Linked DNA regions of Homo sapiens: region 2 is linked to region 1. The links come from fine-mapping of genetic effects on gene expression. Tissue or cell type: whole blood. Region 1 holds a variant in brackets; the other region holds the start of a gene. All regions are shown on one strand. Distances are between the middles of the regions.

The links. PIP is the estimated chance that this variant, and not a neighbour inherited with it, causes the effect.
Region 2: APLP2 starts here. The variant in region 1 is fine-mapped to the expression of APLP2 in whole blood (TOPMed, PIP above 0.99).

The regions. Positions count from the first base shown.
Region 1 is chr11:130,042,226-130,044,974 of GRCh38, reverse strand. No RefSeq gene overlaps it. Among named protein-coding and RNA genes, the nearest start is that of APLP2, 26 kb to the left of the region's middle. The variant C/T (reference allele first, on the strand shown) is at 1,250.
Region 2 is chr11:130,068,866-130,071,614 of GRCh38, reverse strand. It overlaps APLP2 (amyloid beta precursor like protein 2), which reads right to left and starts at 1,721. Exons shown (of 17, transcript NM_001142276.2): 1 at 1,533-1,721. The coding sequence starts at 1,637. LOC107984432 (a long non-coding RNA gene) reads left to right here and starts at 1,966. Exons shown (of 2, transcript XR_001748444.2): 1 at 1,966-2,151; 2 at 2,502-2,749. RefSeq lists silencers at 833-1,292, 1,363-1,492, 1,883-2,112 and enhancers at 2,029-2,529, 2,530-2,749.

The DNA of each region.
Region 1 (2,749 bases):
TCCCACCTAACAGATGGAGAAACATCATTCAAGAAGTTGAGACTTCCTCTCCCGTCTCCCTCCTCTCCCTCCTCTCCCTCCTCTCCCTCCTCTCCCTCTCTTTCCACGGTCTCCCTCTGATGCAGAGCTGAAGCTGGACTGTCCTGCTGCCATCTCGGCTCACTGCAACCTCCCTGCCTGGTTCTCCTGCCTCAGCCTGCAGAGTGCCTGCGATTGCAGGCGTGCGCCGCCACGCCTGACGGGTTTTCGTATTTTTTTGGTGGAGACGGGGTTTCGCCGTGTTGGCCGGGCTGGTCTCCAGCTCCTGACCGCAAGTGATCTGCCTGCCTCGGCCTCCCGAGGTGCCAGGATTGCAGACGGAGTCTCGCTCACTCAGTGCTCAATGTTGCCCAGGCTGGAGTGCAGTGGCGTGATCTCGGCTCGCTACAACCTCCACCTCCCAGCCGCCTGCCTTGGCCTCCCAAAGTGCCGAGACTGCAGCCTCTGCCCGGCCGCCACCCCGTCTGGGAAGTGAAGAGCGTCTCTGCCTGGCCGCCCATCGTCTGAGATGTGGGGAGCGCCTCTGCCCGGCCGCCCCTACTGGGAAGTGAGGAGCCCCTCTGCCCGGCCACCACCCCGTCTGGAAAGTGAGGAGTGTCTCTGCCCGGCCGCCCCATCTGAGAAGTGAGGAGCGCCTCTGCCTGGCAGCCACCCCATCCGGGAGGGAGGTGGGGGGTCAGCCCCCCGCCCGGCCAGCCGCCCCGTCCGGGAGGTGAGGGGCGCCTCTGCCCGGCCGCCCCTACTGGGAAGTGAGGAGCCCCTCTGCCCGGCCACCACCCCGTCTGGGAGGTGTACCCAACAGCTCATTGAGAACGGGCCATGATGACAATGGCGGTTTTGTGGAATAGAAAGGGGGGAAAGGTGGGGAGAAGATTGAGAAATCGGATGGTTGCCGTGTCTGTGTAGAAAGAGGTAGACATGGGAGACTTTTCATTTTGTGCTGTACTAAGAAAAATTCTTCTTCCTTGGGAAAAAAAAAAAAAAAAAAAGAAGTTGAGACTTGCCCAAGGCTGAATAGTTAACAAGAGGCTGAACCTGAAATCACAGCCTGGCTTTCACCCCTGGCTTTGCAGGCGGGAGATTTTGCACCCGGCTGATGCACTGCCTCTCACAGTGCCTTGGGCAGCTCCAGCCTGGGGTTTTCATTTTGCCCTAAGAACGGTCAGTGGAGAGTAAAGTCTGTTGGGCAAACTTCTCCCTTGCTGACCAA[C/T]GAAAGGCAAGCATCAAGAAATCAGGAAGAGGGAAGAGAAACAGAGCAAATGAGGAAAACAGAAAGAGGAAATAACAAGCTGGAACGCTGGTGGCTCTGTGGTTAAAAAGAGAGGAAAATATAAATGGAGAGAAAATGGTCATTTTGGTCAAGTATAAAAGGTAGACAAAGGTTGCTGAAGATTGAGAAGAGAAACAGGTTAGACACCATTCTACCCCACATCTTTCAGTACCTTCGCTGGCAACCCCAGGGTTGGAGGGTGGGGCCGGGAGCAACTCTTCACTTCCCCTAGAGCAGAGTTTCCCAAAATATAGCAGATATCAAAGATAATTTTAGATATTACAATAACAGGCATTAGTTGAATGGCAGGGTACAAAAATGAAATATTTTGAAATTGTTTTAATCCTTCTCTCCCCAATTGACTGAACAGTCTGAATCAAATGGAGTAGCAAAAGAAATATTTCACTTTCTTTAACTACCACCTTCCACATACTCAATCTCTCTCTCATTGTAGGGAAGAAAGATTATTCCCTCTTTCCAAATATTTCCCATATTCTTGGTAAGCCATTAACTTGAGGAAAGGTAAGTTTCTCTTAACTACCTCTTGGGCAGAGCCCATAAATATCTGATCAGTTTTAGTTACCAGAAAAAGCCAGTGTCGTTTAAATTTTTAATTTCATATCCAAATTAGTGTTTGCCTGGTGCCCTTCTGCATCCCTCTAGGTTCCTTTCTCCTCCGGGGAAGGGAACACATGCCCCCCTCCACAAGAGATGCCCTGTGGTCCTCTCTGGGCCGCACGGCCCCTCCCTGGCTGCTGATGCCCGCTTGTCCAGGAATCCGAGTTCAGACTCTCATGGCAGTGTGAGGGTGAGTTTTTTGGTGAGCTGTGCAGTTCCCCGACATGGGAGGGTCACCAGGGCTTGACCACTTCAACTGTCCCTCAGCTCCCATTCCTAGGGGTCACGATTAGGGTCATACACATCCAAACTCTACGGGGTGCACACTGGGCTCCCCAGGTCCCCTCACACTCCACAGGCTGCGAGCCGCGCCTTTCGGACTATCCCATTCTCAGCAATTCTCCCAGGCCCCTCACTGAACCTCCACGTCATGCTACCTGCCACCCGACCCCAACCCCTATCCCCAGCATCTCCAGCTCCGCTTCCACGGACTCTGACTGGATGATGATGAAGCCGCAGGAGCAGGTGAGCCACCGTGATAAGCCCTGAGGAGGTGTCTGGCCTCAGTCTTTCAGCTCTGCGGAACAGCGGGAAATGCGAAAGCGCTTCTCTGTTCTCGACCGTGGACCCCGGTCTCCAGTGTGATTGCATCTAGTATGGCAAAGCCGCCTCTCTCACGCTTAGCCTCCTTTCTGTCCCTACTCAGAGAGAGAGCAAGCCTTCTTTAGGCAACAGCATCCATCCACAAACTAAGACCATTTGGCCTTCCTCGTGCTTATTTTCACTGTACACTGTACAGTCATGCGTTGCTGAACAACAGGA
Region 2 (2,749 bases), 27 kb before region 1:
AAATTAGTCATAGCAGTGGGAAGTGGAGTGCGAGTGTGAACGATGGTTTCTGACACCCGACCCACTAGTGAAGTCCCATCTTCCATACGAAAGCCTTTATTTTTTCTTCCCATCTCACTCACCTAGCTGTTTTCATGCGACATATCAGGGATCACAGATACAACTCTGACCATTGTGTGGACACACTGAAACAATCGCAATCCAAAATCCTCTGTAGATAAACGTTAACTATTTCTCTTTAAAGCTGAACTCCTTTCTTACCCTCACAGTCACAAAGCTTTAAACTGGATGAATACAAAGGTGTTAAGCCGTTCCATCAGAGAGGCTTTTTATTAGATTTATTTTTACCCGTGGAAATACTTGAACATTCTGTAGAAGTAAATATATTCTAAACCTGAGGTCTTTAAAAGAAAGCTCTCAATTAATGCCCAATCAAATCCAGTCTTCAGGTCTCTCTGAAATTAGCTAAGTATGCAGAAACCAGTTGTAATTTTTAAAAGAGCGAAGAGGGAGAAGAAATAAACGACACCAGAACTACACATTCCAGACCAGCAGTTCAAGCACCACTTCGAGAAGGGAAGTAAAGATCAAGCTCGCCGTCTCCCTCGGCCACAGCAGGGCTCCTCCAAGGCTGCCCGCTCCGGCCCGCACCGCGGACCCCGCCGCCCCCGCCCCCTCCCGCGGCCTCCCCAACCCCCGGCCCTGCCGCTTCGCCTTTCTCGCAGCGGGGATGCTCAGGGTGCGACCTCGAAGCACAACCACTGATGGAATTCTGACACCCGAAGAGGACGATTTTTCCAACAGTTTACACGCCTTCGCGGGCACCTTCCCTACTCACTGAAACCCTCACGAAAGCGGTCAACGCACCCAGAGCGGGTTTCCTCGGTCTACGGACGCAGGCAAACAGCGCCACTTAAAAAATGCGCGTCCGCGACCCGGCCCCAGGCGGCAGAGGGAGCAGCGGGCGGCCTGGCGCGGGAGCTCCCCCGGGGCTCGCAGCATCCCTGCCGCGCGCGAAGGCCGGGGCCGCGTCCACCTGGCAACAAAGGCGAAGCCCGCCGCTCGCAGGTGGGAGGCCCGGAGCCGAGGCCCCGGTGCCGCGCGAGGGAGCGTACGGGGTCCGCGCGGGGCCGCCCCTGGAGAAAGCCCAGCCGCGGACTCCGGCGGGAGAGGAGCGCCCTGGCATTGTCCCGGGGGAGGGCGGGGCGGGCGCCCGGGGGCACTGGGTCCCCGGAGGAGGTGGCGGCGCCGCGGGCGGGTTGGGGGCTGGGTCGGCCGAGGCGGACGGCCGCCCCCAGCAGCCCCGACGCCTTTCATTTGGCCTCTGCGGCGGCTGAGGCAGCCCGACCTCCAGCGCTAAGCACTGCGCCAAGCAGGGACGGGCGGGGGAGGGCGCGCCAGACCCGCCGCAGAGCCGGACCCCCGGCGCCGCACCGCCGGCCCGCCCTGCCGCGGACCCCGCTGCCCGCCCGCAGTCCGCGCTCCTCCGGCGGGCGAAGGAGACGACTCTCCGGCGTTCGCCCGGTCCCCACCTCGATGTAGCCGGCCAGCGCCAAGGCAGGCGCCGTGAGCCCCACCAGCAGCAGAAGCAGGAGCCTGCCCGTGGCTGCGGCGGCCGCGGTCCCGGTGGCCGCCATCCCTCGCCGGGTCGCTCTAGCGCGCGGCTCTCAAGCTCACACACTCGGACTCCTCGCTTAGCACACCGCGACCCAGAAGCATCTAAAGCCAGTTCGCCGCCGCCCCGGGGGTTTTACACCAACCGGAACTGACTTCATATTACCACGCCCTCCTTCTGCGGCTCCCAATGCCGGCCCGCAGAACCCCTCAAGACCCCGCCCCCTTGCGGTCCAGACCCAATCAGGAGATGGAAGAGCCTGCTCCTCCCGCCCGGTCCAACCGCGCGCCCCCCGCCCGGCCCCGCCCCCGGCCGCGGATGGCCCCGCCCCCGCTCCGGACCCTGTGGCCGCCAGGCGCGGGGGCGTGCGCGCGGCGGGTCTGGGGCCGCAACCCTGTGGGCGCGGGGCTGGCTCTGGCCTCCGCCCCCCGGCGCGGTTATCTGTCCCTGCTGCGCTGGTCCGTCAGCCTTCAGCCTCCCGATACGGGCACGCCCCGCTCCCCTGCCCCTGCTGGGCATTCTTCAGACTCCTTTGGGTACCGCCCTCTTTTTGATTCTGGAAATGGTTTTATTAAAAACAGGATGAATTAGGAGTCCGGGACGGTCTGCCAAGGGCCGTCCCCCGAGGCAGGGGGAGGACCGCAGGAGGCAGCCATCGTCCTCCCCCGAGCCCTACTCAGGGCGCGCCTCTCCCGCCCTGCTCCGCCCAGGCCTCTCCGCCGGGTCCTCGCCTCTGAGTCCGGCCGCGCTCCGCACCCTTGGCCTCCGGTCTTTAGGCCTCTTGCCGACCCTTCCTTCCCAGCAGTTGCCCAGGCAGGGATAGAGACCAGGGGTGCAAGAACCACGCCGGCCTCACAGCCCAGGCCCCCTTCCTCGTGTGTTTTAGGAAGAGATCACGCCGCTTCTTCGGTTGAGACGCACTAGCGGGAGACCTGCTACTCTGCCTTCCTGCTCCGCGGCATTGCCACTTCAGTAGAGAAAAACGTCCTGCTGCCCCATTTAGCAATTGGCACAGCCTCGCCACCGCCAGGGCTCCGCTGGCCTTGTTTCCTTTCAGTCGCCTGTGAGTTAGGTACTGCCTTCTGAGAGACCTGGACTAGTCCCTTCAGGTTCAACTAAATGCATAACACAACC